4 linked regions of the Homo sapiens genome follow. Each later gene encodes a partner of the first gene's protein in a complex. Each region holds a gene or a part of one and is shown in the gene's direction. Other genes may lie near its edges. The genes, in order: ARID1A, SMARCD3, PHF10 and DPF3.

Region 1 (7,556 bases):
GCAAGGATGGTCTCGATCTCCTGACCTCGTGATCTGCCTGCCTCGGCCTCCCAAAGTGCTGGGATTACAGGCGTGCGCCACCACGCGCGGCTCAAGCTTTAAGTAGGTTTTTCATACAGTATTTTTTGTATTAGTTGGTGAATACAAATCTTCAATGAGCTCAGCAGAAATAAGAAATCCAAATTTCCTGATCTGCCCAGTGGTTTTATGAAACCCCAGTCCCGTTTTTTTGTTTTTTGTTTTTTTAAAAAATATTAGTAGTAGCTTTACTCAGTCTTTTCCACAAAAATAAGCTCACTGGTCAGCAAGCTCACCAGTGAGACTGGTGAGTGAGGCTGTACTTAGAAGAATATGAAAGCCTTGGTATCTTTTTCCTCATATTAGACTGGCCCTGGGTGTTATTTTTGTTTGAAACCTGCCACAAGCCAGACCAGCCTGGACTTTTACTTATTTTATTTTTTATTTCAGTTTTGGTGGAGGTGGTGGTGAGGGTAATTTTTAATTTATATTGAGACAAAATAAGCTGGCTGACTTATGCCTGAGGCTCTTTTTTTCACAGCTACTTTGGGGAAAAAAAGTCTCATTCAGAAATTAACATTTCTCAAAATGTGTTCCTTATTCTGAAATATAAATGACCCCAAATTGCTTAAGAGTTTGAGATGAGTGGGGAAAAGATCTAGAAAAGCATTTATTGTGTGCCAACCAAGTTTGAGGCCTCCTGGTTTGCTCCTTTGGGATTCTAGATCCTTGGCAGTCACAGTTTTACCGCGAAGAGCTGTTGAATGCCATTCCGAGTTCATTCCATTTTTCTCCGTGTGTGCATCCAGTTCGTATTTTACAGCTCCCGTATGGGAGCCGGTAACATAATGAATTGCCTTGACTCTCGCTTCAATCCACTTTCCTCGCTTAATATGCAGCCCAAAGTTTTGCAGCTCGCTGTCAGATGGTAGTGCTAGACTTTCACACCGATCCCAAAGCCTCCGCTGGGGCTGTTTCTTAACACGGAGTTACAAACTTTAAGAACAGACAGCTCCAGACGGAAATCCACGCCAGGCTTTGAACTCTGCTTCTGGCTTCCGTCAACTGACATAGTTGCCCTTTTGCTCAAACTCGCAGCTCCAGTTCGCACTCGAGAGAGCTCTGCTGGGTGTCTGCTGCTGTTCCGCGGCGGGAACGTGTGGGGGCAACAACCTGGCGCTCCAGCGATTCTCCACGCCTTAGTTAGGAATCTAAGCAAACCCTCGCTAGGGTCCCTGGGCTTAAGACGACTTCTCCCACAAGGATTGGGTGGAGGAAGGAGCCGAGCCCGATCTTCTGTTTGTTTGTTGAGTTTTGTATTTCAGACATTTAGGGGAAGCAAATTGCGAGAAAGGAAGGGCTGTCTTCCCTGCAAACGTTTCCCTCTCCTAGCAAACCCTCCAGGCCTCGGTTCCACATTTTGCAGTTGACTCTCTGGATTTTAATAGGTTGTTCCCTTGTCCTCGGGCCCAATCCATGCACGCTGTGCAGCCGGATAAAATGGGAGCACATCCTCTGCCATTTTCAGCCGGTTTGTCCTGGCAGCCCTGCCCCCTTCCTTGGCTGCTCTGCCGCTGGAGTTAATACGCCCAGAAACTCCGCCTGATCCTCCAGGCCTCAAATCCAGTCCGCGTTTGCTAAGTGCCGTGCGGTCGGGGACGGCGATAAGAACTCTCCTGTGAGGGAGAGCTAGCGAGACTTTAGTCCGGTTTCCATGTCAACGATTCAGTCCATATTTGCCATCAGGCTGTTGGCCGAGGTGCTTTCGCGAGGGTAGCGCTGTCCTAGTCCTAGTTCTCCAATCTGCGCCGGGATTCCTGAGCTGCCTGGGTGTGGGGTTAAAAGGCAGGGGCCGTGGGGGAAAAAACTCCACCGAAGGGAGGACCCACTGCCCCCAGCCGGGGTCTCGCTGCTCGGGCCAGCCACGTGCCCAGCTCCTCCCCTCCCCCGCTTTCCCGTTGCCACTGCCCCTAGGGAAAGCTGATGGGCCAGTTTCTAAAAAAGTTCCCTCAGCCCAACATTTCCTGGGATCGTGGTGTGGGGCTCTAAAAGTAAAAGTGGAAGAGAACCCTAGTGAATTAAAAAAAAAAAAAAGTAGAGAAATTCCACATTATCTCCTCCAACCCAGGTGGATAGATTTTTGTGCACTTTACCTTATTGCTAGAGAAAAATGGTGACTGTTTTCAAAACAGCTTGCCCACGTGTAGGGAAGGAGATTTTTGGCGCTTTCCATATTTCACAGCCATTGAAGAAAGGGGATGAGGGCTTTCTTTGGAGAGAAATCCATTCTAGCTTCCAGATTTTCACTGGGCTCCAGGTTTCCCATTACACCCCAGCTCTAAGGAAAATGGCAGAGTAATGGCATGTAAAAAAATCCTCATTTGTGTGCAGGACTCAGGACTGTTTGCCAGCTCAGGGGCAGTTGATTAAATAGCCAAGCTCTATTTATGAGGCAGCCTATAATTTGGTTTCTAGGACCTAATGCACCGGGGAGAGTTGTTGCCCCTGAGGACTGTGAGTGAAAAGAGGGCACTGGCCCATACCAGTCAGTCGGATCTTCTTGGTAGGCTGGTTTGGTTCTTGGCTTGAGGCCGGGGGAGGGGAGAAGAATAAAACTGTGGGATTTTTTTTTTTTTTAAATCTCATCACTCTTAGATTAACAGGAAGGTTTTGCCTTTCTGGTGTAGGATGCAGTAAGTTTTCTTGGGGAGAGAAATGAGTTCAGGCTTTGGAATTATTCATAGTGACCAGGGACATTGCCAGCACTCCCGGGTCCTGCATAATCTAAGATAATGCTCCTGTGGCCATGAAGTCTCCCTTTACAAAATCTGAGGGGGAAAAGAGATCCTGGTGTCTAGGAACACTGGCCTGGGCCTTTCCCAAGGCAGCCTTGGGTCTGGTGAGGAGCTGGAATCCCCTCTGGCTTTTGTAGCCTGTCATATCAGAACATTCCAAGTCAGCCTGAGGAAGAAAAGGCTGCTGCTGGGATTTGGTGGGGCCTGTAGATCAGGAGAACACTGGAGCTTTCTGTGTATGTCGATCTTTTCAGATAAACCTGGCCTTCTACCCAACTCCAGCTCAATCGGGGTCTCTTAGAATGTAATGGTAAACTTTAAACAATCTTTACGCTACAGGATAGAAAACAAATCTGACAAGCATCCATTTTCTAAGTGACTTGTTGGACTGTGCCTTTTCTTCAAGGAGAAAATGGTTTCCATTTTCTGCATCTCTCTTCTGTAATGGTTTGAACACTCAGGTTCCTGCAGTCCCTGGAGCCTCTTCTGTGGGTTTTCAGTATTAGAAGGTACTGTCTTTGGAGACTGGGGCTACTTGTCATGGTAGGCTAAGTTTTCTTAAGAGGGAGTGAGAAACGGTGTTTAGGTTTTCCTGCTGGGTAACTGTTCTATGCTCCTAAAGCAACTTCAGTGGCCTCCATTTTAAGTTAGTGGTGAGATGATCAGTTTTGACTTCAAATCCATTTTGATATTCTGATCCCATTGTTGAATGTGCTCACAACTTGATTTTTTTTTTTTTAAAGGCAAGTAGACCGAAGGCAGCTTTGGTGACTCCACTTCTTTTTAAAGTCACCCTCCTCTGCCCTCTGACTTTAAGTGACAGGCAGTTCCCTCCCCTCTCTTTCAATTCTGTAAAATGGGGATAATCCGGACCTCATGCCCCCAGAGCCTTGTAAGGACCGGCTAATGAGGGCAGGCGAGTGGGAAACGAATCGTCTGAACAATGATCAGTCATTCTTTCGGGCTTGCAAAGAGGGTAAAAAAGGTTGGGTCTTTAGCGGGGTCCGTAGAAGGCTTTGAAGACGAAAAGTGCTGTAGAGGTGCTAAGCAGCAGCCAACGGACCGGGCCCGCTGCCAGGGGGTCAGGGCTGGGCCGAGGCGGCCGCGGTCTCAGGCTCTGGCCAATTTTGCAGCCGCGGGTAAAGTTCACGCTGCCCGCTCCCCTCGGTACGGCCGGGAGGGGACAGACCTGGATAGGGACGCCGGGAGGGAGGCGGCGCAGGCTCCAGAGATGCGCGGGCTCCGGGCCGGGTTTTCTCCGAAGCCTTCGGCGGCGGCGCTGCCTAGCGAAAGCGGCTGAGGGCCTGCCGCCGCCGCGGCTTGTTCTCTCCCCTCCTCCTTTGTGAAGGGAAGGGAGCGAGTCCGTTCCACGGCCTGCGCCCGCTCCGCTCTCCACTCCGGGTTTGCCAGGCGGCCGCGACGGCGCTGGGTAAAATGGCAGTGCTGAGCCTCGTGTCGGAGTGAGGGGGACTCGGAGGAGAGTGGGGCGCTCTAGCCGCTCAGTCCGGCCGACCGCTTGCTCGCCCGCCCGCTGCCGCGCAGCAGCCTCGACCCAAGCCGCAGCTGGCGAGGGGAGGCAGGGCGCCGGGCTCGGCCCGCGCTCTGACTCTGGCTCCCGGCGCCCCGGCTGCTGCCGCGCGCCCTCCAGCCCGCCCGTCCCGGGTCCCCCTCCCCCCGCTCCCTCCCTCCCTCCCCGCCCCCTCCCCCTCGCCTCCCTCCCTCCCTCCCTCCTCCTTTCTCCGGCAGCAGAAAGCGGAGAGTCACAGCGGGGCCAGGCCCTGGGGAGCGGAGCCTCCACCGCCCCCCTCATTCCCAGGCAAGGGCTTGGGGGGAATGAGCCGGGAGAGCCGGGTCCCGAGCCTACAGAGCCGGGAGCAGCTGAGCCGCCGGCGCCTCGGCCGCCGCCGCCGCCTCCTCCTCCTCCGCCGCCGCCAGCCCGGAGCCTGAGCCGGCGGGGCGGGGGGGAGAGGAGCGAGCGCAGCGCAGCAGCGGAGCCCCGCGAGGCCCGCCCGGGCGGGTGGGGAGGGCAGCCCGGGGGACTGGGCCCCGGGGCGGGGTGGGAGGGGGGGAGAAGACGAAGACAGGGCCGGGTCTCTCCGCGGACGAGACAGCGGGGATCATGGCCGCGCAGGTCGCCCCCGCCGCCGCCAGCAGCCTGGGCAACCCGCCGCCGCCGCCGCCCTCGGAGCTGAAGAAAGCCGAGCAGCAGCAGCGGGAGGAGGCGGGGGGCGAGGCGGCGGCGGCGGCAGCGGCCGAGCGCGGGGAAATGAAGGCAGCCGCCGGGCAGGAAAGCGAGGGCCCCGCCGTGGGGCCGCCGCAGCCGCTGGGAAAGGAGCTGCAGGACGGGGCCGAGAGCAATGGGGGTGGCGGCGGCGGCGGAGCCGGCAGCGGCGGCGGGCCCGGCGCGGAGCCGGACCTGAAGAACTCGAACGGGAACGCGGGCCCTAGGCCCGCCCTGAACAATAACCTCACGGAGCCGCCCGGCGGCGGCGGTGGCGGCAGCAGCGATGGGGTGGGGGCGCCTCCTCACTCAGCCGCGGCCGCCTTGCCGCCCCCAGCCTACGGCTTCGGGCAACCCTACGGCCGGAGCCCGTCTGCCGTCGCCGCCGCCGCGGCCGCCGTCTTCCACCAACAACATGGCGGACAACAAAGCCCTGGCCTGGCAGCGCTGCAGAGCGGCGGCGGCGGGGGCCTGGAGCCCTACGCGGGGCCCCAGCAGAACTCTCACGACCACGGCTTCCCCAACCACCAGTACAACTCCTACTACCCCAACCGCAGCGCCTACCCCCCGCCCGCCCCGGCCTACGCGCTGAGCTCCCCGAGAGGTGGCACTCCGGGCTCCGGCGCGGCGGCGGCTGCCGGCTCCAAGCCGCCTCCCTCCTCCAGCGCCTCCGCCTCCTCGTCGTCTTCGTCCTTCGCTCAGCAGCGCTTCGGGGCCATGGGGGGAGGCGGCCCCTCCGCGGCCGGCGGGGGAACTCCCCAGCCCACCGCCACCCCCACCCTCAACCAACTGCTCACGTCGCCCAGCTCGGCCCGGGGCTACCAGGGCTACCCCGGGGGCGACTACAGTGGCGGGCCCCAGGACGGGGGCGCCGGCAAGGGCCCGGCGGACATGGCCTCGCAGTGTTGGGGGGCTGCGGCGGCGGCAGCTGCGGCGGCGGCCGCCTCGGGAGGGGCCCAACAAAGGAGCCACCACGCGCCCATGAGCCCCGGGAGCAGCGGCGGCGGGGGGCAGCCGCTCGCCCGGACCCCTCAGGTACACAGCTGAGTGGGGAGGGGGCTGGGGCGAGCGTGGTCCTGGGGGTGGGTGGCGGCTGCGGTGAGCGGGCCACAGCCTTGGGCTCCCCTCAGTCCCGGGCCCCCACTGCTGGGGAGCTGCCATTGTCTGGCTCTTCTCTCTTAAAATGGCTGCCTGTCTGCCTTCCTCTCCTTCCCTCCTTCAGCCTTTGTGTTGGGTTTTTCCAGAGGTGTCTGCTCCTCTTTTTCCTCTCCCCTGGTCCCTTCGAACTCCAGGGGTCTTGATGGGGGTGCGGGGCAGAGTGTGCGGGGAAGGGCCTGGCCGGGGGTGAGGGGGTGAGGGGGCGCTGGGGGCTCAGGTTAGGAGTGTAGGCAGTGGTAGGAGCCCAGGAGTTGAATGAACGTTTCTTTGCTCACCTGCCGCTCCTCTCCGTCCCCCGGCCTTCCTCTGGGCCGCCCCCCATCTGTGCTTTCAAAGAGGGCCCCTAGAGCTCGAGGGGACCTCGAGGGGAGGGCAGGGGACTGCTTGGGAGCTGCTAGAGGCCGGCTGCGGTTCACCTAGGGCAGCCCGGTCCATCTCCTGTCTTAGGCTCCGCCGGCCCAGTGGCCTGGGCTTCTCCCTGGAAGTGCTGGTAAACAGCTGAGTGATTGGAGTAGTAAGTGCAGATTGCTTTGGTTTGGGATTTGAATTATGGAGGTAAAATCCTTCTGTCAAAGCCAGGAGACAGTTGGTCTTAGGTTGACATCCTATCTGTGATCTGATTGGCTCCCCATCTCCTGCTCTTGGCCATTTATAATTGCCTCTGATGTAATGGTACAACAATCCTGATGAGCTCATAAACTTTTACACTCTGCTTTTCTGCCAGTGATAACCCAAACTATCGCTGCCACTATCTGCCTTTTATTCCAGAGCTGAAATTGGCTGTGACCTTGAGGAGGGAGGTTTAAGTAGCAATACTGTATCAGCAAGAGCAAAGCCTCAGACAGCCTGCCCTTGTTACATTGTGCCCAAACAAAAGAGGAGGCAATGGCATTTTGCTTGTACCTTGGATTTATTTTGCTTGTTATGTTTTATGCAGCCTGAAATGAATTCTGTGTTGTCAGAACAGTAGCTGAGTTTTTTCTCTACAATGGGTTTGCTGTTTGTTTTGGTTTTGTGACTTTCCTGATGGTATAAATGACTTCTTTGATGGCTCTGAAGATGCATTTATCTTGAGTAATTTTGACACTGGTTGCTTTGCAGAATTGAAATGATTTTACTGGGCTTTTTATTGAGTGGCAAATGTGGGATCTTTATGGGGGGCCAGAAAACAGTTTTTGTTATTTTTTTTAGAACTGGGAGCTTTCTGAGGAATTTTATATTAGGTTCAAGCGGTCTGTTTTAAGGAAGACTGGCCTCATTCTTTGTTTACATGTTGAATCTTGTTAACACTTTCTTTTGTTAATTGAACTTTGGAATAGCAGCTTAATTTAAAGGGAAGCTGGTGTCTTTCATGATCTTGAGGG
Region 2 (7,035 bases), on another chromosome or scaffold:
CCACGGGCGCCCGTTTCTGCTTCACCCCCGCCCACCCCCAGCGCCCCGGGATGCCGTCTGGAGCCCGGATGCCCCACCAGGGGGCGCCCATGGGCCCCCCGGGCTCCCCGTACATGGGCAGCCCCGCCGTGCGACCCGGCCTGGCCCCCGCGGGCATGGAGCCCGCCCGCAAGCGAGCAGCGCCCCCGCCCGGGCAGAGCCAGGCACAGAGCCAGGGCCAGCCGGTGCCCACCGCCCCCGCGCGGAGCCGCAGGTGAGTGGGAGGCCCGGCGAGGAGGGGGCGTGCAGGGGCGGGCCCTGGGGGACCCGCAGGGACCAGGTAAGCGAGTAGCGGGGATTGGAAGGGGCGAGGAAGAATGATTAGCAGGGAGCGAGGCTTCCCGGGTCGAATGCCCTCTGGGGAGGTAGGCTTAGGGGGCACCGGCCTGATTCTTTTGTGTGCCCACGGTAGAGACAGGCTGCGGCGTCGGCAGCCGGTACCGCTTCCCTGCACGCTCCCCTCACCCTTCTCCTTGTCACCTGCTCAGTCCTTCTCTCCACCCATCAGGTTCTGGGTGATGCTTCAGTCTTTGGGGTGGGGGCGGGGCTTCCAGTGGGACTGAGGGCAGAGGTGTAGGACTGTGTTCCCCAAAGTGTGGTTCTCCGCTGAGCCTTCCTGCCGGCCCCCGGGCTGTTTCAAAGCCACTCCAGATTTTCTCAATGGGACTCTCTGACCATGGGGGTGGAGCTTGGGGATTTGCCCTGTGGGTAGGTGGTCTCTACCCAGTCCTGCTCTTAATTCTTAGGCACTCTGGCCCAGGTCTGCTCTCAAGCCACCAGGGCCAGCCCATTTCCTTGCTTTCCTCCAGCAGCTGGTGGCACCCTCAAAGCCCCTGCTGGCTCCTGGCAACAGCAGTGCCCCTCCGGGTTTCAGTATTTAGCCAAATACACATGCTTTTTTTGCACAACAGATGGGTTTCTATAAAAGGTGTAATATCAATTTTACCTCATTATTATTTTTTACACATCGGGGAAAAAATCACCACTTATAGGAATCCCATGATGAATTCTTTAGTAAAGTGCATCGTCATTTTGTACAGCAAATGGTAATTCCCTGATTTATCTTGTATAAATGGAGAGTTACACATAGATAATCTGTTTAAAACAAACCAGACCTTTAATGAAATCCGCTTGTTAGCCTTAGATTTCTGCATAGGGAGGGGGCAGTGCTTGAGAACACCACACGGGGGCAGTATGGAGCTATTCTCTGGGCTGCGTTTTCATCTCTTGACCCGCCAAGGTTTTTCTGGGGGTTTTTGGGTTAGTTAGAAGCAGCTAGTGGGTCAGAAAGAGCCCACATCCAGCTGCTACTACCCCGGGCCTAGTCAATTTGGCCTCAGCCTGAAGTCACACCCATGCACATTCTGGGCGCCTATGGCTGCAGCATGTCCCTCACCCTGTTGCCAGGTAGTCCCAGGGCATGAGTACCCCCAGCCCATCAGCGTTCTCTTCCAAGCCCAGGGTGGCTGGAAGGGGTGCAAGTCCCGCCAGCTTCACACCGTCACCTCCCGCTCCATGGATAGGAAGGAGTTCGTCTCTCTCCCTCCCTCTGAGCTTAGGCCCCTTTGGACAGGGCACCCCCTGCTTTCCAGAAAAGGTCTTCAGAACCTGGCTTCCCTCTCCTTTGTCCTCCCTCATCCCCACCTTTCCTCAAACACTTCTGCAGCTCGCATCTTTTGGCAGCACCGCCCCCACCAGCCAGTCCCTCCTGTCTAAATTTCTCTGTCCCTGAGGATGTGGCAGGGTAGAAGGGGGCTCCCAGGCCAGAGAATGGATGGGTCACTCCTGTGTCCTGAGAGAGGACAGAGCACCGGTTCCACACACCACCGTCACAGCCCTTGGGCGGGCAGACAAGTGGGCTGTGGGAACCCCAGCCAGGCGGGCGGAGATGTCGGGATAATCTAGCAGGTGGCCTCGTTACGCCCAGATCTGTCGCCATGGTAACCTGGTTTTTTCTTTAAAAAATGTACAGTGCCAAGAGGAGGAAGATGGCTGACAAAATCCTCCCTCAAAGGGTGAGTGCCTTTCACAGCAGCCCCCAGCCCACCCCCCACCCTTTGCTGCTCCGCCCTCCCCTCCCCCCTCAGAAGCAGAGCTTCAGCATCACAGTCACTTTCACTTTTTGTTTAAAAAAGCTCATTAATAAGTGAGGCTCCGCAGGCCAGAGGGAGGGGGTGAGGTGGAGGGAAGCAGCAGAGCCACTGGGGCCAGAACACAGGGGCCTGTCAGGGGGTTTGATCCAAGTGGTACTATAGAGCTGTGGGACCAGGAGGGGGCAAGAGCTAGGGGATCAGAAGCTGCCAGGCAGAATGAAGGGGATAGAAGGTGGCCAGAGATCCTGAGCATCCTAAAGAGACCCAGGTCCAGCTGGGTATGGGGACAGCACAGTTGGGACAGGTGTGGGGGCTGAGCAAGGTGCCAGCAGAGAAGAAAGCACCGCTGTCCAACTGTCTCAGGGATTGAGCCCCTACTAGGCACTTTGCAGGGGCCCAGGGGAAGCCCAGCAGGCATATGATATGGACAATGACAAGATGAGGAGACTAAAGGCTAGTGCTTGCTGAGCTCCACCGTTGCTACCTCCTCCCTGATGATGAAACACAAGGCACTTCCTAAAGGGAGAAGCAATTGTTATCCCTACACAGCAAGGCCCCTACTGCTGGATAATGGCATCCTGGGGAGAGGTCCTGTTCCCACTGTCAAAGCTACATGCCCAAAAGTAGGATGGCTCCCCTGACATCTTTTGTACCCTAGGATTGCACAACATGCATACATTCCATGGTACAACCCTGGACTTGAGCCTCTGACTCCTGCCCTGCTCCTCCTTCTCCAGATTCGGGAGCTGGTCCCCGAGTCCCAGGCTTACATGGACCTCTTGGCATTTGAGAGGAAACTGGATCAAACCATCATGCGGAAGCGGGTGGACATCCAGGAGGCTCTGAAGAGGCCCATGAAGGTGCCTTAGTTCGGGGGTAGGAAGGGGACTCTAGAGTTGTGTGACCAGGATGGGGAAGCAGGGTGGTCGGGGTGGGAGCACACAGCATTCGCCCGGTTCTGCACTCTATTTCTACAGCAAAAGCGGAAGCTGCGACTCTATATCTCCAACACTTTTAACCCTGCGAAGCCTGATGCTGAGGATTCCGACGGCAGCATTGCCTCCTGGGAGCTACGGGTGGAGGGGAAGCTCCTGGATGATGTACGTCCCGGCCCAGGTCTCTCCAGGTGTCCTGGGGTGGGCATGGGCTGCACTGAGAACAGAACAAGGTGTCTGCACTAAGGGCTAGGGAGTCAGCCCAGGCTGGGTGGAGGGGCAGGCCTAGAGACATTCCAAGTGCAGAGGATTTCATCTAAGCCCACTGCCCTGTCGGCTGCCAACTTGGCCTCCTTCTGCTCCTCCCACCTCGTCCCTGTTCTGCCCCCATGGTCCCTGTTGCTCTCCCACAGCCCAGCAAACAGAAGCGGAAGTTCTCTTCTTTCTTCAAGAGTTTGGTCATCGAGCTGGACAAAGATCTTTATGGCCCTGACAACCACCTCGTTGAGGTAAGACCAAGAGCCCCTCCGCCCTTGAATTGCCACCCTCCCACAGGCCAGAATCCCTGAAGAACCAGCACAGATTTGGGTCAGGGACCACCCTAGAGTCCTGGGCCCCACCACTCCAGATGGGCCTTTGGGAGACACAGCTCTTCTCTCCTGGACAGTGGCATCGGACACCCACGACCCAGGAGACGGACGGCTTCCAGGTGAAACGGCCTGGGGACCTGAGTGTGCGCTGCACGCTGCTCCTCATGCTGGACTACCAGGTCTGCACCTGCCATGCTGCCCCGTACACGCCACACAAGGCCCTCAGGGCAGGGCTAGGTCCCAAAGTGGTGCATCTTGAGAGACCTCCTTCCCCTCCCAAACCTATCCTTCCCCAGGGGCATGTTTCCTCAATCAACACATCCCCCTAGTCCTGAATGGCCTGGCCCTGGGCTCCTTCCTTTCTCTCCCTTTGGTCTAACTTTCACAGTCCCCTTTTCCCAGCCTCCCCAGTTCAAACTGGATCCCCGCCTAGCCCGGCTGCTGGGGCTGCACACACAGAGCCGCTCAGCCATTGTCCAGGCCCTGTGGCAGTATGTGAAGACCAACAGGCTGCAGGACTCCCATGACAAGGAATACATCAATGGGGACAAGTATTTCCAGCAGGTAACCTCTCTCCTGAACCCTGGGATCTGGGGAGCAGGCGGAGTTCTCCAGCAGGGGAAGTACCTCTACCAAGGTAACTACCACCCCTCCCTTCTAGATTCCTGAGTAGCAGAAGCAGTACACAGTCATGGTCTTGGAGCCAAGAGACCGACCAGGATTCTAGTTCAGGCCCTACTGTGGATTAGCTCTGTGCTGCAGCCAATCCATGTTAGCCCCCCCAAGTTAGGAAGACCTGGAAACCCTACAAAGCCAACCGCTTTCTGGAATGTAATATTCTTGGCACTTGGAGTTAGGATCCCCAGGTTCTAGTCCTGAGTCTGGACTCTGGGTAAGTGACTCAGCGATTCTGAACCTTGTTTCCTTATCTTTGAAGTGGAGTGACAATACCTGTCCTATCTACTCTCCTGGGCAGTTAGGAAAATCAAATTGCTGCAAAAGTGATTGAGCAAAATTCCACCAAAACAGAGAATATTCTTATTAATGCATTTAAAAATAAATACAGCAGATAAACCTGAGGAGTAAAAATAGCAGTTGATATTTATTGGGCACTTACCATGTGCCAGGCACTGTCCCAAGCACTTTATGTGTATTAGTTCACTGACTTCTCACGGCAGCCCTGGGAGATAGGTATTCTTTTCATCCCCACTCTAGAGATGAAGACACTGAGCCCTGAGGTGTTAACTTGCTCCAGGTTGCATAGTAAGTGGCAGAGGCAGGACTGATACATAAGCAGGCTGACCCAGGGCCCGCACTCTCAACCCCTGCCCCACACTGACCCACCCCCTATCTTGTCAGCCATACCGGTGGCTCCACCACCAGACCAGCCCACCCCAATCCCATCCCCATGCGCACTGAGGAATCAGACTTCCTCTCAGCTTCTTGTGGCCTTTCTAGAACAAAAGGATCTACAACTGCATGATGATCTCTTCAAGAAGAGTGATCTCTCTCTCCCCAATTGTCCTGCTTCAGATTTTTGATTGTCCCCGGCTGAAGTTTTCTGAGATTCCCCAGCGCCTCACAGCCCTGCTATTGCCCCCTGACCCAATTGTCATCAACCATGTCATCAGGTGAGGTGGCCCCAGCTTGCTTCTCAGACCAGGGAATGATCTCGTTCCTGCCTTCCCTGCCCCTCCCTCTCCTCCCACTCCCATCTCTTCTCCCTCCCTGTTGGATCTGCCCCAGCCCCGGGGCCCTGGGGCCGTATGGGGGCATCGTGGACACGAAGGGCTGGACTTCCCTGGCAGCGTGGACCCTTCAGACCAGAAGAAGACGGCGTGCTATGACATTGACGTGGAGGTGGAGGAGCCATTAAAGGGGCAGATGAGCAGCTTCCTCCTATCCACGGCCAACCAGCAGGAGATCAGTGCTCTGGACAGTAAGGTGGGGCCCAAGCCCAGAGCTGGAGTGGGACATTAACCCAGAGATGATAGAGGAGACTTTTCTGAGACCAGGGTGTGGTTGCAGATGAGCAGTCTGGGTTAAATTAAAAAAAAAAAAAAAAAAGAGACCAGACTCTGGGCCAATGGGACACACATGGCCCGTCCATGCTGCTTGGAGCTGAACCTCATTCCAAGTTTAGTTCTGCCCATCCCCTCCTCCCCTGGGACTTCAGAGAAATCAGGGGCTCTGAGGGGTTGTCCTTCACAGAAGAAACCCCCTCTCCCTCCCCTTCCCACCCGCTTCCTTTCCCCTCGTCTCCCACATCACCAAAGCCAGGTGGAAAGCATCTATCTTTCTACCTGCAGATCCATGAGACGATTGAGTCCATAAACCAGCTCAAGATCCAGAGGGACTTCATGCTAAGCTTCTCCAGAGACCCCAAAGGCTATGTCCAAGACCTGCTCCGCTCCCAGAGCCGGGACCTCAAGGTGAAGAGGGAGACTCAGGGAGTACTGGAGTGGAAGACAAGCACAGCGGGAAAGAGAGTAAACGTTGTACTCCAGGGGCAGGTGAGGGGATTCAGGGCTCAGGGCTCACCCCACGCTCCCTCCCAGGTGATGACAGATGTAGCCGGCAACCCTGAAGAGGAGCGCCGGGCTGAGTTCTACCACCAGCCCTGGTCCCAGGAGGCCGTCAGTCGCTACTTCTACTGCAAGGTATGCAGGGACCCTTGCCCTGAGGCTTCCCCATCCTCAACTCCAAGAGAAACCTCCCTGTTCAGCTTGTGGGCAGCCCTCGCAGCTCCCCACAGTAAAGCTTCACCACGCTGCCTCACCATGCAATGGCCCTCCCTGCTCCCAGATGCTCTTTCAGGGCAGGCGGTGTCAGTAGGTGGGATTGTCCTGATCACTCACCAGAACACTGACACCTGCTCCTGTTCTCACTTCCTCTAAAGATCCAGCAGCGCAGGCAGGAGCTGGAGCAGTCGCTGGTTGTGCGCAACACCTAGGAGCCCAAAAATAAGCAGCACGACGGAACTTTCAGCCGTGTCCCGGGCCCCAGCATTTTGCCCCGGGCTCCAGCATCACTCCTCTGCCACCTTGGGGTGTGGGGCTGGATTAAAAGTCATTCATCTGACAGCAGCCGTGTGGTCATTGGAAACTGGGGAGGGGAGGGGGAGAGAAGGGGAAGGGAAGAAGGTGGGGAGGCAGTGGGTCCCTCGGGACGACTCCCCATTCCCTTCCCTTGGATTCTTCTCCTTACTCAATTTTCCCTAGACCTAAAAACAGTTTGGCAGAAGACATGTTTAATAACATTTTCATATTTAAAAAATACAGCAACAATTCTCTATCTGTCCACCATCTTGCCTTGCCCTTCCTGGGGCTGAGGCAGACAAAGGAAAGGTAATGAGGTTAGGGCCCCCAGGCGGGCTAA
Region 3 (7,035 bases), on another chromosome or scaffold:
TCTGCCCATTCTGTTTGGGTTTGTTAGAGACAGATGCTGGGGGTTCTGTAGCACCTCACTGCTCAGGGTATGTTCCGTGGTCCAAAGCACTGTTATTGCTCAGAAGCTTGTTGGAAATGCAGAATCTCAGGCCCAACTCTAGACCTATGACTCAGAGTCTGCATTTTAACAGATGTCTGTGTGATTCATGTGCAGGTTAGAGTTTGAGAAACACTGACTTTTACTGCAGAGAAGATGAGAGAAGGAGCGGAGAGGGGCAGGCATGGGCAACTGGGTGCCCCAGCCACATTGCTGACCTGGCCTGGCTGCTGCTCCAATATGGACCCTAAATGTTACTTATCTCCTATTCCCAAATTAAATGTAACTGAAAAAAACAGGGCTAACAGATTCTTTTTTTTTTTTTTGAGACAGTCTTGCTCTGTACCCAGGATGGAGTGTGGTAGTGTGATTTCGGCTCACTGCAACCTCTGCCTCCTGTGTTCAAGTGATTCTCCTGCCTCAGCCTCCCAAATAGCGGGACTGCAGGCACATGCCACCACGCCCAGCTAATTATTTGTATTTTTGGTAGAGGTGGGTTTTACCATGTTGGCCAGGATGCTCTTGATCTCTTGACCTAGTGATCCGCCCACCTTGGCCTCCCAAAGTACTCGGATTAAAGGTGTGAGCCACTGTGCCCAGCCCATTTTGTTTTAAAGTCTCAGCTTTTACTTCAACCTTAAGCCTTACTCTGGAACCGTATGTTTTTCATAATATACTATTTTTTAGAGAATAGAATTTAAAATATAGTATCATAACTCACACCATTTGAAAGTCAAATCTTGGGCAGAAATTTTTTAAATAAAAAAAGATTTTTTAAATTCAAATTTAAATCATGAGCAGCAATTTTTTAAAAGTTTTTCTTCAAATTTTTTTTTTTTTTTTTTGAGATGGAGTCTCACGCTGTCGCCCAGGCTGGAGTGCAGTGGCGCGATCTCGGCTCACTGCAACCTCTGCCTCCTGGTTCAAGTGATTCTCCTGCTTCAGCTTCCCGAGTAGCTGGGATTACAGGTGCCCGCCACCTTGCCCAGCTAATTTTCTGTATATTTAGTAGAGACGGGGTTTCACCATGTTGGCCAGGCTGGTCTCGAACTCCTGACCTCAGGTGATCTGCCCACCTTGGCCTCCCGAAATGCTGGGATTATAGGCGTGAGCCACTGCACCCGGCCTTTAATTTTTAAAAATTTTATTTTGGCATCAGCAAATTATTAAAAGTCATATGCAAGTATATTAACCCCTTTGCTTTTTGGTGTGTTGTCTTAGTTGGAGAAGTCTTCATCTAGGGTTGCCTCCTGAATGGGGGCTACTGAGGGTGAGAATGGAGGTGGCACGAAGCAGTGCTGTCTGACCTAGGGGAAGAGATTGCCAATATAGTTTCAGACAAAATAGATGATTAAATTTGTTAGAATACATGCTTCCCAAATTTGTTTACAATAATTGGTTACTAAAAATTTTGCTTTCTATGTTATTATTTTAAGTAATATCATGTACCATGCACTGGTGTGATATGTATGCATTAAATAAGTTAATGCATATATATCAACTGTATGCGGTAGATGCTATTATTAGGTCTGTTTTACAAATGGAGTGACAGCACAGAGAAGTAGCAAAGACCTGGGACAGTGGTCGAGGTGGATGTGAGCTGGCAGCCAGACTTGGGGCTGCTGACATTTTATTTACTTTTTTCTTTTTTTGGGTTGAGGGCAAAGAGGGGAGGCACATTATCTCTTAGTAAGAATCAAATGCATATTTTACATAAGTCTAGTGAAAAGATGTTCAGGCTTTTTATTAACCCTACTTGATGACAAAAATGAAAAATTAGTACTCTAGTTTTCAAAAGTCTTCGGGGTTACTCAAGAAGTTTAAGGCTATCTTCATAGGTCAAAGATGAGTCTGTTTATATTTAATAATAAAGGGAAACCAAAAATAAACTCTCTGAACTTCAGGTACTCACCAGATGAGCTGCGGTATCTGCCATTAAACACAGCCCTGTATGAGCCCCCTCTGGATCCTGAGCTCCCTGCTCTAGACAGTGATGGTGATTCAGATGATGGCGAAGATGGTCGAGGTGATGAGAAACGGAAAAATAAAGGCACTTCGGTGAGAACATTTCTCTCTAGTAGGAAGCATTTCCTTTCTCTTTGAATTTTTGTTACATTGAATTTCTGTCATCACCCTCTCCTTGAAAAAGGATGGTTGCATGTAATTTCCAGAAAGTATTCATCAATAAAAGTTACTTATAGTATGTTTTGATAAAAACAAGCAGTGAATGGCCTTTGGTAAGCTTTATGCTTAAAATCGCCCCTTTGTAGTTACCATGAGCAGTTTAGGCAAGGGTATGGAAAATTAGCTTACAATCATTTATTCAACTTGCTGTCTCTTTAGCTTAAAATATTGAACAAAACAGAATTTGATCTCTTGACACAGAAATGTAGTTTTCTTAGTTGAGGGGAGTGCATTTGCTTAATCTTATGCTTCCTATAGGAAAATATTATGTTTAGTAATATGTTGTACAATTTGTTGGGTTTTCCTGTATGACTTTTTTTTTTGTAGCAAAATGCACCTGCAAGACAGTGGGCAGTTGGTGTATTCTGTGCACCTGAAGGAGAATAAAATCCCAATGATGGTTTGGGGCTTTGATCCCAGTGATGACATAGGGCTTTGAATTTCTTTAGCATTGTGTTTTAAGTAACTGGCTATTTCAAACTTTTCATTGAAGCCAATGTAAATGTGAGATTGTGCTACCATTGAATGGACATTATTTCCTTGTCACCAACAGCTTCTAAAACATCTTTAATAATACATATTATGCAAAATAAGATACTGTTCAAGTATTAAAGTGGTGACACAACTTTTCTCCTGTCATGTTGCTAAAAGGGGAGCTATGGCATGCAAAGGGTGATGAAGCTGACTTCCTTTCATACTGCTAGGAAAAGTGTAAACTAATCCAACATTATGGGAAAGCATTTTGACAGTCTTACCAATTTAAGTTCCATAGTATTTGACCTAGCAAATCCACTAGTAGAATTTATCCTAAGGATTTAATCAGATGCTGAAAAATTTTAATTAGAAAAAAAGGTCCATTTGAGTGTTGACAGTATTTTTTATGCTGGAAGTTACAAATAAATTTTAATGCCCACAGTGGGTAATATTATATTACATTTATAGGATAGAAATGCAGTTCAAAGAATATTTAATGATTGTGAGAAAATGCACATAATGCTTTTAAAAAATACCAAAATACACATATGCATACACACACAGTGTAATCCAGTTTTGTATTTTAAAAAATGAGGGCACAATGAGGTAGGGGGTAATGTGTGAGTCTCGGTATCTTTATGTATATAAGTGGACACCCAGAAAAAAGATAAAGTAGATACATTCATGTTTCTAGTCAGTGTGTGTTTATCAGGGAGGCTCTAGATAACCTAATTTTTTAATTTATAATTTTTGTAATTTATATGAAAGTTCTAATTAGAACATTTTAAATTATAAAATGAAGAATTAAATGATCAGATACTGAGGTCTTAAACCTTGAATATATAAAATATTTCAGATCCTGTTGTAGATAGTTGAGGGATTGGCTCTGCATAGTTTAACATTGTGAAAACACAAATGTGTACTTGAAGGACTTTTTTTTTTTTTTCCTAACTGCAGCGCTTCATTTTTCCTGAAGGACCTTCTTAATGACTTTTAGTACTCAGTGAAAATACCCACACTTATTTGTAACAATATATTTTTGTATGAAACAAATATGTTCCCTTGTGACGGAAAATGATGTTGAAGCTGTGTGCCGTAATAGTAGCTGAAGCGGATAATTGTGTTTTTGTGACTTATGTCAGAAAACAAAGTTGATGAAGGCACTGATATGGAATCAGTTTTATATAATATACTTAGAAGAAGGAGGAATGATTTTTAACATAACTTACTTTAGTCTCCACTGGAAAAAGCTTTCTTACATTTAGAATGATCTTTTTATTTTTAAAATGATAAAGCTTTAAAACTTTCTTTGAATATTTTCCATAGTTTTCAAAATCCAGACTCAAATTTGTCTTAATTCCAAAGAATCTTTGTTTTTGCCTTTTAAACTCCAGGACAGCTCCTCTGGCAATGTATCTGAAGGGGAAAGCCCTCCTGACAGCCAGGAGGACTCTTTCCAGGGAAGACAGAAATCAAAAGACAAAGCTGCCACTCCAAGAAAAGATGGTCCCAAACGTTCTGTACTGTCCAAGTCAGTTCCTGGGTACAAGGTAGAAGAAAAAAGCCCCTGACTCAGCTTCTTTACTGACCAGCCTCTCCCTGAAATATTTTAACTTGACTTTCACGATTGTGGAGCTTCTGCCTGCTGTACCTCACTAGCTGTTCTTCTATGGTGTGCCCTTTGTCCGCTGCTTTCTTTTTTGCTTTATTTCCTTGGTGGCTTTTCTGTCACTTTTGGCTATGGTTTACCTTCTGTTTTCTGTATATGTACAATTTATAAGTCTTTTTTTTTCTTTGAAAGAATAACCAGGCAAGTATGGGTTTTTAAAACATTATTTCATAGGCAGAAGTTTATATTTTCTTTCCTTGGAGTAAAGATCATAATTATTTGGCATTTTAAATGCCCCAGCATTTAGTGTAGCTAAAGCTGCTGAGCTATAAAGTATGAGTGGATATACTGTTAGACTAAGTTGCATTTTTTTTAGTGCCTTTCATTAAGAAAGATCTGGGTTTAATCTAAGGATTATTTGATCCATATGCTAAATTTAGCTAACTCTGGGATAGAAAATAATAAAACCTGTTACTTACATTGTAGTGATTTTTAGCATAACCTTGGTAAAGAGCCTATATGATTCTATGGCAAGAATTAAAACATACTTGTTAACTTGTTGATCTGATTATCCTCAGAGTAAAGGAGTAGGTTGTCAGCAACTATTATTATATTTTGAACTTTTCCTCCCTCTGTCTGCCCCTCCCTTTTCTTCTGAAGAAAAGGTGAGGTGAGAGATGAGTAGCCTTATTTGCATATAGGGATTTAAGAATATCATAAAAGGAAGAATTAGCTGTACAGTTTCATATTTGGGATGGTGGTAGTAAAATAGACTACCTTTTGATTCTTTTGGTCTGAAATGTATTAGAACATGCTTTTATTGCACTTATGAAGGTGTATTGAAGGAAAATTTTAGAGTAAGCTGATGAGAAAGTTTTGCCAAGTGAAATTGTTAAACACCTTGTATGTCAGAACTGTGATTGTGGTAAATAATTCACAAGAACAGGCTGAAGTAAGTCACCTTTCCCTCAAACTAACTAGAACACGTTCTAACATGTTCATTTACCTTTCTTCAAGTAAAAAAAGCGACATTAAGTTAGTGTATTTCATATTTTATTAGGAAATGCTTTTATGTAATTAACTTAAAAATTCTTTTTTTTTTTTGTAGCCTATAGCAAGCAAATTTTAAGCTTAATTCAGCAAGGGTTGGCTTCCAAGGGTGGCTGCAATAGGCTGCAGCTATGTGATTTTTGTACTTGTTTTTACATATATAGCTTATGTAATTTCTTTATATAAATTAATGCTTAATAACTGAAAGCAAGTGAGCTCCAAAGATGAAATTTCAGAAGCAGTATACATGAATGAGTGTGTTCTACTGGTCTGCTAAGAGCTTTAAATGGAAGTGGCCGCTCAAAGCACAGTGTCCTGTTAACTCTTGAGTGCTAAGTAGATCTTTGCAACAGTAAGCTTGATTGATCATGGGTTAAAAAGAGAGAATATTGAAATAGATGTTTTAATACAGGCTGGAAATCAGCTATTCAACACTATCATTGATTTAGTATACAAGAAATCATATGGATTAACTGAACTTAATAGTACTCAAGTAGGATATGCAAAATTTATATTTTACATAATCTGTGAACATTTTTAGTACCTAAAAATGTTTCAGGTATTTCAAAGATGGGAACAACCAGTATCTAGTCATCATACATTAATGTGAACATGCTTATTAAAAGTTAACCTCTTTATAAAAAGTATTAATAAACCAAGATGTGCCTAAATATTAGGGTACTTCAAGCTAAAGGTCATAGTTTATATATAAAAAGTACGAGATTCAAGGAAGTAATGTATCTGATGCTTTGCTTAATAAGATTCACTAGTGCTTGCCCTTAATTCATAGAACAGTATTGTTTAGGTTACATTAACCTGAAATTTAAAGCATAATTATTAGGATTCCGGCCTATAAATACAATAATTAAAATCTATACTATATTATTGCTACCATGAAAGTCTTATCTTTGGCTGTTTTTCAAGTAGAAAAGTAAGTGTACTGTGAGCCTTTTATTTGAGATGCTGAGAGCTATTAGGATGAGTATTTCAGTTTTCTTGTCAATAGTGATACTCTGATGATGTTGCAGTTATTTGAAGTAGAACTGATTGTCTAAACCAGACACACATAGGAGTGTGCTCCATTGGTCTTGTGGAGAGTGCTGCACATTAACCCCTCCCTCAACTGTGCAATCCACTTGAGACTGGCTTCTCTAAGCCACAGTTGTTATCTGCTGTGTAAAGTCCTGGATGCCAGCACTGTGGCTTCTTAGAGAGGGCAGATGCTTTGTATATCGAGCTGCAGCATTCATCGTAGAAAATGCTACAAAGCTGTCTCTCTTCCCCTTCTCTCATGTTTCCCTCTTTTCATCAAGATGAAGGCTGTTGGGTAAGAAAAACTAAGTGATTTAACAAATCATTATGATTTAAACTTAGAAATAAACCTAGAATTTTTTGGTGTCCCTTTTATCATAGGTGTTTAATGTATATTTTAATGATTGTAGAACTTGAATTGCTCTAGAATGTGAATGACTACCCTTGTGTTTTACTCCTTTTGGCTTTTGTTTTGTAAAGAATCTCCTGTGAGGAGTTCTGTTTTTAGAATTTAATATTGTTTGGTTACTTCCCTGACTTTAGTGAAAGATATTAGAGTATTTACTATGCCAGTATCTAACTTAAACTATTAGTATTAAATAAGTATA
Region 4 (2,603 bases), on another chromosome or scaffold:
GGAAGGCTCCTCTGGGGCCCTGGATGGCACATGACTCCCAGTGAGGAGAATTCTGGTGATCTCTGTGGAGGTAGTCAGGGACACAAGGCTTGGCTGTGAGTCTGGTTTTAAAGTGCGTGACAGCCTGAAAAGCATGCAGGGGTTTGGTCCACTCACCTACTTGAAAGCCTGTGGGCAACGTTCTTTTGAGCCAAGACTTCTCTGAATGGCCCTGCTGGTGGAAGGGGTGAGGCAAAGGCCTCTGACTTGGACCCTTTCCACACCAGACTGGCAGCACTTCCCCCAGGCAGCCAGTGGTGGGCCCTGAGCCCTCAGGTCCCCAGCTCCTTGAGGGATGAACCTGGGAGCCCAAGAGCCAGTGGCTGAGCTCTGAGAAGGCTCCATCTCCCACCTGCCCTTGAGCGCGCTCTCAGGCTGAGAACACGGTCTCATCAGGCGCCTTCCTGGCCTGATGCTGTGCTGTCTACGTCACACGGTCGATTCACAAAAGCCAGAACTAGACCTCAACCAGGTCATCTCCCCGTTGCCAAGTGGGTTCAGGGTGAGGGCAATTTGTAAGCTCAATTTCTCTGACAGCCAAGACATGGAGCATCTCTGCTAAGAAGCCAAAAGAAATTGGTTTTCTTCTTCTCATTGCTGAAGCCCCTCTGTGTCTCTTCTCAGGGACAGGCTGGTCCAGTGGCTTTGGTGAGGGCGCCTCCATTTGTGAACGCTGGGATTCCTCTGGGTGGGCTTTGGCAGGTGGCTCCTATGGTAGGAAGGATGACCAGGTCCCTGGGAATGAGCTGCCTACCTGCTGCTCCACGAGGAAGCTCAGGCCTGCACAGGCTCCACCAGGCCTTGGATGCCCTCTAGTTGAGTCAGAGACCCTGGAAACACACTGAGATCTCCAATTGCTGCCTCCATTGATGTCTCTAGACCTGCAGATACGAAGCAAACCTGGGATTGCTTCTTCCAGGTATGGGCACCAGAGAGGGAAGCCACTGCAACATTTTATCCCCATCATTCCAAAATGCTTGCTTGTCTCTTTTACCTCACACTCACAACTCCTTCTGAGACTCTCAGTCATAAAGGAATGACCAAGAGAGTGGGTCTCCAGTGAGAGAAATGCCTATGAAAGAGGGTTTCCCTTTTTGCTCTTTTGAACACCCTCCCCACTGATCCTTGGGACCCAACGCCGCATTGCCTCTTGCAGATGAGGTTTTGCCTTGGGCTGCTTTGGTACTTCAGACCAGGACTGAGTCTGACACAGCTTTCATGAGGTTACAGAAAAGGGCTACAGATTTGGGAAGCTGTGTGTAATGGTCTTGAGACAATATCTCCATTTGGCCCACCCTGGCTTCTCTAAAAAGCAACGACAGCAACAGACAAACAAAAAGCTCCCACCTCCCACCCCGTTAGCTGTCCTCCTCCTTCACTGTGATGTGGTTGCGGTCTCTGTAGGTGTGTGTGCCACCCTTGTCCTCTGTCCTCTGGGGATGTGCCCTTCCCACGTGTGTCAGGTTCCCACTCTTTCGTGGTTCCTAACGTGAAGTGCTGTGATGTTTCTGCCCTGCCTAAGGAACGTATCAAGCTCTCTCAGTGTTTCAGTGTTGGAGATTGAGGCTGTGCCACATCTTCTGCCATCCTAAGGGGACATGATGGTTCTGTGATTCCCAGAGAGCTGGCAGATTGTGACAATCTCCAGGAGAACCTACAGATTGGAAGCAGCCCACACCTGATGTGGACTCCTGACCCGGGACTCACTCTTCATTCAGAAGACTGGTGGCCCACGTGCCAGGACCACCCCACCTCTCTTGCTGCCTTTTCTCCTGTCCTGATGGGGTTCTGGGAGGGAGACCTGTCGCTGATGAGATGAAGAATGTGGGGATCGAGCAGCCTTCTTCTTTGGGACCCCTCGATATCCCATGGAATGCTCGCACGTTCTCAAAGACTGAGTCACAAGCCCCTACCCCTTCCTTGCTGTGGTTAGTATCTTGTTCTGTGATTGGTTAGCAATGTTGACTACCCACGTAGTGAATCTTTTGTCTGCAATTTAGAGAATGTGTAAACAAATAAAAGGCTTTAAAACTCTTGGAAACTCTTATTTTCCCTACGGATAGTTAGGACCTCACTTGCAAATGTAGAGATCCTGTGGGGGTAGAGCCCTTTCATGTTGGGGTGTGCAGTAGGACTGCATTGTGTAAGAGAGAGAGAAAGAGAGAGAGGGAGAGAGAGAAACACGCATGCGTGTGCATCAGGCTCCAGAGAAACACTAGTGCTTTCATGGTTGCAGGGAGACTCCAGGAGCAACAAATTCCAGGTCTCAGTTGCTGCCTGGTGATGAGCTTCTGGCCACGTCATACATAGCACCAGGGAAGCCACAGTCACCGTGACAGCTTTCATGGGCACAGTGGGCAGCATAGCTTCAGGCCTTAACTGAGAGCTTCATCTGCAGGAGTAGAGCAGCTCCTTTTCTGGAGACCCCTCAGAGAAGCTCCTAGGGCATCCTGAAAGGAGCCCCCTAGATTTTCTAGGAGAAGGGAGGTTGATGAATCAGAGATGACTCACAGGAGAGGTGGGGGAATATGGTTGGGGAGAGAGAGAGACCTCTGGTGCAGGAC

What was found.
Region 2: ARID1A (region 1) and SMARCD3 share a complex: the UniProt entries of both Homo sapiens proteins name them as parts of the neuron-specific chromatin remodeling complex.
Region 3: ARID1A (region 1) and PHF10 share a complex: the UniProt entries of both Homo sapiens proteins name them as parts of the neural progenitors-specific chromatin remodeling complex.
Region 4: ARID1A (region 1) and DPF3 share a complex: the UniProt entries of both Homo sapiens proteins name them as parts of the neuron-specific chromatin remodeling complex.

The regions. Positions count from the first base shown.
Region 1 is NC_000001.11:26,691,472-26,699,027, forward strand, and holds the start of ARID1A (AT-rich interactive domain-containing protein 1A), read left to right. Parts: upstream 1-4,543; 5' UTR 4,544-4,745; coding exon of another isoform or gene 4,746-4,932; coding exon 4,933-6,069; intron 6,070-7,556. Other genes in the region: translation initiation factor IF-2-like, read right to left, coding at 3,808-4,494, 4,746-4,934. UniProt on the Homo sapiens protein: Involved in transcriptional activation and repression of select genes by chromatin remodeling (alteration of DNA-nucleosome topology).
Region 2 is NC_000007.14:151,238,678-151,245,712, reverse strand, and holds the end of SMARCD3 (SWI/SNF-related matrix-associated actin-dependent regulator of chromatin subfamily D member 3), read left to right. Parts: intron 1-41; coding exon 42-253; intron 254-2,011; coding exon 2,012-2,054; intron 2,055-2,869; coding exon 2,870-2,992; intron 2,993-3,109; coding exon 3,110-3,232; intron 3,233-3,480; coding exon 3,481-3,576; intron 3,577-3,734; coding exon 3,735-3,836; intron 3,837-4,059; coding exon 4,060-4,221; exon of another isoform or gene 4,222-4,549; intron 4,550-4,733; exon of another isoform or gene 4,734-5,190; coding exon 5,191-5,288; exon of another isoform or gene 5,289-5,403; coding exon of another isoform or gene 5,404-5,465; coding exon 5,466-5,601; exon of another isoform or gene 5,602-5,694; intron 5,695-5,960; exon of another isoform or gene 5,961-5,966; coding exon 5,967-6,089; intron 6,090-6,215; coding exon 6,216-6,317; intron 6,318-6,556; coding exon 6,557-6,610; 3' UTR 6,611-6,933; downstream 6,934-7,035. Other genes in the region: CHPF2 (chondroitin sulfate glucuronyltransferase), read right to left, coding at 7,032-7,035. UniProt on the Homo sapiens protein: Involved in transcriptional activation and repression of select genes by chromatin remodeling (alteration of DNA-nucleosome topology).
Region 3 is NC_000006.12:169,707,487-169,714,521, reverse strand, and holds part of PHF10 (PHD finger protein 10), read left to right. Parts: intron 1-1,982; coding exon 1,983-2,136; intron 2,137-4,130; coding exon 4,131-4,286; intron 4,287-7,035. UniProt on the Homo sapiens protein: Involved in transcription activity regulation by chromatin remodeling. Belongs to the neural progenitors-specific chromatin remodeling complex (npBAF complex) and is required for the proliferation of neural progenitors.
Region 4 is NC_000014.9:72,608,504-72,611,106, reverse strand, and holds the end of DPF3 (zinc finger protein DPF3), read left to right. Parts: 3' UTR 1-2,073; downstream 2,074-2,603. UniProt on the Homo sapiens protein: Belongs to the neuron-specific chromatin remodeling complex (nBAF complex).